Homo sapiens: one gene and its partner. The protein of the gene in region 1 binds, or shares a complex with, the protein of each later gene. Each region holds a gene or a part of one and is shown on either strand. Other genes may lie near its edges. The genes, in order: IQSEC2 and ARF1. A codon is read from its position in the direction of its gene.

Region 1 (3,905 bases):
TGTCCTCATGTGTACTTGCTCGGGCCACAGGTCCTGAATTTGAGAGTCTATCAGTGGGGGTGTTGGTCCATTTGAGCAGGTCCAGGTGGGTCAGAGGTTTTCTGCAGAGGAATTGAAAGCGCCACACCTCCTTCTTTGCTCCTTAGCTGTGTGGTGGATGAGATGGACTTCTCCTCCATGGATCTGGATGATGCGCTCCGGAAGTTCCAGTCCCATATCCGGGTTCAGGGTGAGGCCCAGAAAGTGGAGCGACTCATCGAAGCCTTCAGGTGTGCCTACCTCCCACTCGCGAAGCTGCCCCTCCCTCCTGTGGGCATCGACGTAGTATGTGTTTATAAGTCACTTCTCTGAGCCTCATACTTTCTTCACCATAAAACAGAGATGATAAATCCTATCTTGCAAGGCAATTGTGAGGATCAGAGGTAGTGCATATAAAGTATCTAGCTCAGCCTCTGGGACATGGGCATTCGATAAGTGACAACAACATCAGCAATAACAGCTAACATTCACGGAGCACTTACTAGGTATCAGGTGCAGAGCTGAGCACTTTACATGATTATTTCACCGAATAATCACAACCACCCCATAAAGTAGGCACTTCTGTTATTATTCCCATTTTACAGATGAGAAATCAGAAGTTTAGAGAGGTTAAGTAACTTGCCCAGGCTCATACAGTGAATAAGTGGTAGAAACAGGATTTGAACTCGTATGTGTCTGAGTCCATGATCCATCCATGCCCTTAACCATTTTACTGTACTATAAATGCTTTGGAGATCAGATAGACTGGGGTCTAAATCCTGGCTCTGCCACTTTAGGGTATTTAGAAGAGAAACAGGAGTTGCTGAGAACTTGTTTCCCACAATGGGGGAAGGATTTGCTTTGCAGTCAGAAATAACTGGGTTTTCATCCTGGCTTCACCATTTACCAGCTCTATTACCTTGGGCAAGTTACCTCGCCACTTTGAGTCTTAGTCACTTCATCTGTAAAATGGGACTGCCAATAGCTACCTTGCAGGATTATGATAGGATTACGTGAAACAACGTACATAAATCCCCTGGAAGAGCTCTGTAAAAGGTAGCGATTGTGATTTTTACATGCTGGTCTAGGGGAAGCTCTGAAGAGGACAGACCCAGAGATCAAGAAAGTATTTCTTGCAGGAAAGGGTTGCTGGTGCCAGACTGGGTGGATGGTGGGTAGGCAGAGATGGCTGGTTCCTGAGTCTGGCTTTGACCCCTCCTGCCCTGCAGCCAGCGGTACTGTGTCTGTAACCCAGCCCTCGTGCGCCAGTTCCGGAACCCAGACACCATCTTCATCCTTGCTTTTGCCATCATCCTCCTCAATACCGACATGTACAGTCCCAGCGTCAAAGCTGAACGAAAGATGAAACTAGATGACTTCATCAAGAACCTGAGAGGTGACTTCCCTGTCAGCTTTTCCTGCCCTTCACCTGGAAAGGGAAAGTGGGGGGTAAGGGGAAGGATGCAGGAGATCCCATCTGTTCCTTGGAAATTAATTTGTGATGCTGTCACTTTCTGCCCTAGCTGGATGTTCCCAGGATATTCACTTATTAATTCACTCAAATCGTCATTTGCCCATTGTACTGAGCTTCTACTGTGTACCAGGTTTCTAGGTCCTGGGGTTCAAGCAGTGAACATGATAGATTAAAGTCCTGACTCTTACAAGGCTTTACTCTGATTCATTCATTCATTCATTCAGTAATTCACTTGTCCTTTCCTCGCTCCTTCTTTCCCTCTCTTATTTATGCCCATGAGGACTCATTTAATTATTTTAGGTACCTTTTCCTCTATTCATGCATTCATTTATCACTCGACCAAACAACCAGCCAGCCAGTCAACACTTAGCGCTTAGTGTGTGCCAAGCCCCATGATGGGTGCCAAGGACAATGGAGGGGAATCTGCCATACTCCCTGTTCTGAGAGAGCTCCCTGTGTGTGGGAGAGGCTGACTTGTAGCACCCAGATAACTAACATAAGACAGAAAGTGAACAGTGACATCAGAGAGGCCAAAAGTGCAGTCAGAGCTCAAAGGAGGGAGAGCCCACCTCTAGCTAGCTTCCTGGAGGAGGTAGTATTTTTATTTTAAGGTGGGTCTTGAAGGCATGGAGAAGGTGACACAATAGAGATAGAGGAGGGCTTACCTAGCAATGAGAATACCAAAGGCGCAGAGGCAGGAACATTTATTTTCTTTAGGGAACAATTGAGGGCTGGGTACGTTGGCTCACACCTGTAATCCCAGCACTTTGTGAGGCTGAGGCAGGTGGATCCCATGAGGCCAGGAGTTCCAGACCAGCCTGGCCAACATGGGGAAACCCCATCTCTACTAAAAATACAAAAATTAGCAGGCATGGTGGTGCACACCTGTAATCCCAGCCACTCAGGAGGCTGAGGCAGGAGAATTACTTGAACCTGGGAGGTAGAGGTTGCAGTGAGCTAAGATCGCACCACTGCACTCCAGCCTGAGTGACAGAGCAAGACTCTGTCTTGAAAAAAAAAAAAAAAAAAAAAGAACAATTGAGATGAGGTCATTGATGGGTTGGGAAGGTCCCAATATATGAGGTTCCAATATATGGAACCAATATATGAGGGCCTTGAATGCCAGATGAAAGGTGTCACCTTGCTCTTTTTGCTTATTCTACTGATGTCGAGCCCTGCCTATCACCAAAGAGCAGCTACTAAAAATGGTACAGATGTTAAGATTATTTAAGCAGAAAAGAAAGAGGGAAATAGAGTCAAAGAAAAAAAGCAAACTGAACACAAGACAAATTGGCTGCCCATCAGGTTTGTGCCGCTGTGGCTGCTCTGGTAAGAAAGTCAGTGCGATGTAGTATGTTCCTTTAGCACCTGTCCAAGGAGGAGATGTGACATTTCCAAGGAAGAAAACATTTTTTTTGTTTTCTGTTTTTTTATTTTATTTGTTTTTTTTTTTTTTATTTTTAGAGACAGGGTCTCACTCTCTCACCCAGGCTGGATTGCAGTGGTGCTAGCAGAGCTCACTGCAGCCTTGAACTCCTGGGCTCAAGCGATCCTCCCACCTCAGCCTCCTAAGTAGCTGGGACTATAGGCGCGTGCCACCATGCCCAACTAATTTCTAAATTTTTTGTAGAGACAGGGTCTTGCTAGGTTGCCCAGGCTGGTCTCAAACTCCTTGCCTCAACTCGGCCTCCCAAAGTGCTGGGATTACAGGTGTGAGCCTCCACGTCCTGCCCAGAAAACATTTTCTCTAGTAGAGGATTTAGAGAGAAGAGTGAGTGGGTTTCACTCAGCAATCAGAAGTGGAGAAGGATGGTGAACATGGGAGGAGGGAGTTAGATCAGAGGCCATTTGGAGCTGTCTCCTAGAATTTTGCCATCATTCATTCATCCATTCTTTTTCCCTCTCTCTCTCAATATATGTGTGTGTGTGTGTGGGTGTGTGTGTGTGTATGTGTAACTTCCCCCTCTAATTATTAAATAAATAAGCAAATAAATGAAGGTAATACATACTTTATTTCAGAAATGTTGGAAGATTCAGAAAATTAGAAAATTTCTTTTTATCACCCAAAATGTGCCCCCTAGAGGCAATCATAGTTAATGTTTTGGTGCGTTCTAATCTTTTCCCCCATGCATATGTAACTTTTTATATAGTTCAGATCATACCACACATGCAATTTATCTTACTCTTTTCCCATAATTTGCTACTGTAATTTTCTCATGCTATTGAAATGTTTTTGTAAATGTCAAGTTTTTAATAGCTGTGCATTATCTTATTAAATGGATATACTATCCTCTATTGTTAAAATTTAGGTTGTTTCAAATTGTCCCCATAAGTAACACTTAGTGAGTTTTTTTTTTTTTTTTTTGAGACAGGGTCTTGCTCTGTTGCCTAGGCTGGAGTGCAGTGGTGCAAT
Region 2 (3,905 bases), on another chromosome or scaffold:
ATAAATAAATAAATAAAAAGTATTTTAAAGGAAGGGGAGGCAGGCTCTGGTTCCCACACAATCCCCGCTCAGTGACCCTGGAGCCACCCCTGGCCACGCTCTGCCAGCAGAGAACCAAAGCCAGGTCCCTTCAGCCCTAAAGAGGCCATAACCACATGTAACCCCCGTGAAATGTCCGCACATGGCCCCGCTCTGGCTGAGCAGGGAGAGGCAGCACAACCAGAAGGTTCCACAGGCATCCACAACCCTCCCTGGGGCTTTCCAAGAGTATCTGAGATGCCTGTAGGGTGGGAGACGTCCTTCCCCTAAACAGACAACCCTGCCACAGCTTCACAGAGGTGAGATTTCGGAAGGGAGCCCCAGGCAGAAAAAGGGACTAAATTTGGGGGCAGGAGGGTCACCGCTTTTGGGGACCTTCGTAGCCCCCGCAGGTGCAGCCCTGGGGGAGAGATCTGCCCATCGCAGCCTCCAGAGGCAGTGAGGACGCCCTGCCCAAGGGGCAAGCAACGTAGGTGATGGGGGCAGCAAAGGGGCGCAGGAGGCCTGGGCCAGGCCCAGTGATCCCACCCCTCAGGCCCTGCCCCCGGGCCTCGGCCTGCACAAATCAGGTTGATTCCCGACCTCCACAATACCCAGGGCACTGTGCTGCAGGGACACTTTCCCACAAGCCCAACCCCTCACAGCAGCACAAGGGAAGAGGCAAGAAGACCTGAGGGTGGTGGGCAGAGCCAGGCCTCCAGCACACGGAACACAGAGGGACTGCAACGGTCCTCTGTTCAGGTGCCTGAGAGCGGGATCTCCTCCGCCTCAACTGGATCTCAGCTTAAAGGCCAGCTCATTAGAGACCACTGTGACCTCCCTTCTGGGCGGCCGTCCCCAACCCTGGGCCCCACCCCCACGGCCCCCGCCTCACCCCGGGGTCCCCAGGCCACCTCCTCCTTTGCTTCATCTGCGGCCAGCTCCCCGGCGTCTGCTCCGGGCCCAGGTATGAGCCCGCGCGTCACTGCGGCCGCCGGGGCGCCGAGGCCAGTGCGGGGACACAGCAAGCCTCCCGCCTTCGGACCTTCCGCCGTGGCCCCGCGAGTGCCACAGGTTTCCACAGGGCCGGGGCACGTGGACCCGCGCAGCCTGGGAGCCAGGAACCCCAACCCCGGCGAGGGGCGCCTCGCACCCCCGTCCTCACGCAGTCCCCGAGGCCTCCCGGTGACTGCCGGGTGTGGGAGGAGGAAGGTGGCAACCAGCCCCGCAGCTCCAGTTGCTGCAGGAGCCCCCCGGGCCTCAGTCTCCAAATACGCCAAACGGGCGGGAGTGAGCCACAGGCTGTCTTCGCGGAAGACTCACAGGCGCAGGCGCAGACGGGTGCGCGCCCCTAGGGTGCGCGCGAGCTAAGACCGCGGCCCGGGGCAGGGTGTCCCCGGCCCCGCCCCCTGCAGCCCTACCGGAGCCAGCGCGCCTGCGTCGCGGGCGCACGGTGGGCGGAGTTCCCGGCGTCTCCGCCCCTTACCCGGCGTGCCCCGCGCCCGGAGGCGCTGACGTGGCCGCCGTCAGAGCCGCCATCTTGTGGGAGCAAAACCAACGCCTGGCTCGGAGCAGCAGCCTCTGAGGTGAGGGCGAGGGGCGCGGGCCGGTGTGGGCCGCAGAGACGTTGGAGCCGGCGGGGGCTGGGGACTGGCCTCGGGGCGACTTGAGGTTCGCGAAGGGCACGTCGACCCCCGCGGCGGCGGCGGCGACAGGGCCGGGCCGGGGGCGGACGCAGACGGGCCGGGCTGAGGCTGGGGCCCGGCCGGAGTCGGGGCTGGGCGGACGGGCGGGTCGGTGAGCTCCTCGCACCCCTCACAGGTTCCCGAAGTCGCTCGCGGCCGCTTGTCCTCCTCTGCCTGTCCCTGCCCCCGCCCGTCGCCCGGAAGTCCGCTTGGACGCCGGGCTCTTCTCCAGGAAACCTGGGCTTCCTGCTTCCCTCGCCTCTGCCTTTCTCGTTTCCCGAGGCCGCCCGCGCGTGGACGGTTGGGATTAGCGGCCGCGGGGGCCGGTGGGGGTCGTGGGGCCTCCCCCACCCGAGTACAGGCGAGCGAGCGGCATCCGGGCGGACCCCCGCCTCGGGGACCGGGAAACTGAGGCTCGGGCGGCCTGAGACGCCGTCAAGGTCATGTAGGTGGTGGGGGCTTGCATCTTCGCCTCCCGACTCCATCCAGTTCGTGTTTGCTGTGAAGACGGTACCGGGTCAGGGGTGGTGAGAGCGGGCGGGCAGGTGGACAGGAACCCCGTGCCCTTCCCTGTCTGCTGAACGGAATGCGTGGACCTCCGGGGGAGCCCAGAGTGCCTCCCTTCACACCAGTGAGACGCAATTTGGGGTCAGCACTCAGGGCACCGGTGGCCTCCAGAGGGCCGGTCGATCTTCGCTTTAACTCCAGGGTGGTTTCCTTGACGTTGTCGGCAGTAGATAAGAAGGCCTCTTCTGAGCTGGTGAATCTTTAACCTACCTGAATCTTTAACCTGCCTGCGGAACGACCTGCTCGCAGACTCTAGGCCGCAGAGGCCGGCCCCAGCGCTCTCTCGGAGCACAGCCTGGGTGGTTACGGCGTGTGAGATTGGGGCTGGACAGCCGTGCGCACCTAGAGTGTTAAATAACCATTCCGACGGCACCTCCTGGCACTCCCTTTCAGTCCAGGCAGCCAGTTGCTGCTTTGCAGGAATTGAGCAGAAATGCACTCGGAATCGCGGGCAGGAAAAGAAGGGAGGTCGGAGGCTTTGGATGGTCCCCGAAGTCGCCGCCTAGTTGAGAGCTGTAGAGTTGGTGCCACTGCCCCTGTTGGAGTGGGCAGTTGTAGTTCTTGTTTCAGAACTAGTGGTCAGCAGTTTTCTTTGCCGGCTGTTGCAAGGCTGGTGGTTCTGGCGTTTTCCGCAGTGTGTTGGGAGGAGTGTGAGATGCCGCGGTGCAGTTGTGTGCGGCCCCTGTGGCCCTCTGCTGTTGCGTTAGCCATTGTCTAACACGTGTGACCGCATGGATGGTGTCCTCATTTAATTTGAATTTTCACCAGCACTGCCTAGGTAGCCAGAACCATAAGGTCCTGAAATGCCGTACTATTAGCTGGGTCCAAAATTGAGAAGAATTGAGTAGTGTAAATGTTAGTCACACATCTCATTGGACACATTGTTAGAGTGTGTTGTCCATGTTTTCACATGTTGGTAGACTGGAGAATAGCTGTCACTTGTCTTCAGGCGTATCTTGTTGAAAATAAATCCAAATCACTGCAGCAGTAGGAATATGCTGTTGCCTGTGAGGCAGATTTTCGGATTTGCTAGTTGAAAAAGATTTGAAACAGTTGGTTTGGACAACAGCTGAGTCACACAATGACTGTGAGTGAAAAGCAAAAACTGGTTCTGTGCCCCTCACAGTTCTGGTTTTGTACATCATGTGGTCTAGCTATGGGCTGTACCTCTTGCACAATATGGAGAGGACATTCAGACATCTTCAACTGCTCATCTGCCCCTACGGACCAGACAGGCTTGAAACTATAGGAAGATGCATTTGACCTTTCATTTTTCAGTTCAGTAGAATTTAATATGGACTGTCAGCCGCTGCGGTGATCATGGAAGTAGACCTAAGAGAAAAAAACTTGTGCAAGTTCACACGTGGAGTAGTATATGACCATGGTTTCAGAGAACTGAAGCAGTTCTTTTTAGATTCTTCAAATTAAATGTCTCCTTGGTGTATTTAAACCTGCTGTTACTCACAGGCCAGGCTCCACCAAGCTTTCCTACACACTTCTTCCTGAGCTGTGACCATTCTCCTGAGCAAGAGGCTGCAGCCAGCCTGGGCTGGCGGGCCCATACTGTCTCTCATAGGCATTCTCTCCCCTTGACCTTTCACCTCCGTAAATTCAAGAGGGTGAAAGGAAATAGAG

Evidence for each region.
Region 2: the proteins of IQSEC2 (region 1) and ARF1 are in contact, whole or in part, in a crystal structure (PDB 6FAE), measured with the Homo sapiens proteins. Residues at the interface, in NP_001104595.1 of Homo sapiens: Arg810, Gln811, Gln841 (codon at 208), Arg845 (codon at 220), Val846 (codon at 223), Gln847 (codon at 226), Gly848 (codon at 229), Glu849 (codon at 232), Ala850 (codon at 235), Gln851 (codon at 238), Val853 (codon at 244), Glu854 (codon at 247), Glu858 (codon at 259), Asp879 (codon at 1,300), Phe882 (codon at 1,309), Ile883 (codon at 1,312), Phe886 (codon at 1,321), Ala887 (codon at 1,324), Ile889 (codon at 1,330), Leu890 (codon at 1,333), Asn892 (codon at 1,339), Thr893 (codon at 1,342), Asp894 (codon at 1,345), Tyr896 (codon at 1,351), Ser897 (codon at 1,354), Pro898 (codon at 1,357), Ser899 (codon at 1,360), Val900 (codon at 1,363), Arg904 (codon at 1,375), Met906 (codon at 1,381); in NP_001019397.1 of Homo sapiens: Arg19, Gly24, Leu25, Asp26, Ala27, Lys30, Thr31, Ile46, Pro47, Thr48, Ile49, Gly50, Phe51, Asn52, Val53, Glu54, Thr55, Thr64, Trp66, Asp67, Val68, Gly69, Gly70, Gln71, Lys73, Ile74, Pro76, Leu77, Trp78, His80.

What each region holds. Positions count from the first base shown.
Region 1 is NC_000023.11:53,244,478-53,248,382, reverse strand, and holds part of IQSEC2 (IQ motif and SEC7 domain-containing protein 2), read left to right. Parts: intron 1-146; coding exon 147-269; intron 270-1,247; coding exon 1,248-1,414; intron 1,415-3,905. UniProt on the Homo sapiens protein: Is a guanine nucleotide exchange factor for the ARF GTP-binding proteins.
Region 2 is NC_000001.11:228,081,162-228,085,066, forward strand, and holds the start of ARF1 (ADP-ribosylation factor 1), read left to right. Parts: upstream 1-1,546; 5' UTR 1,547-1,604; exon of another isoform or gene 1,605-1,689; intron 1,690-1,972; exon of another isoform or gene 1,973-2,213; intron 2,214-3,905. UniProt on the Homo sapiens protein: Small GTPase involved in protein trafficking between different compartments. Modulates vesicle budding and uncoating within the Golgi complex. In its GTP-bound form, triggers the recruitment of coatomer proteins to the Golgi membrane.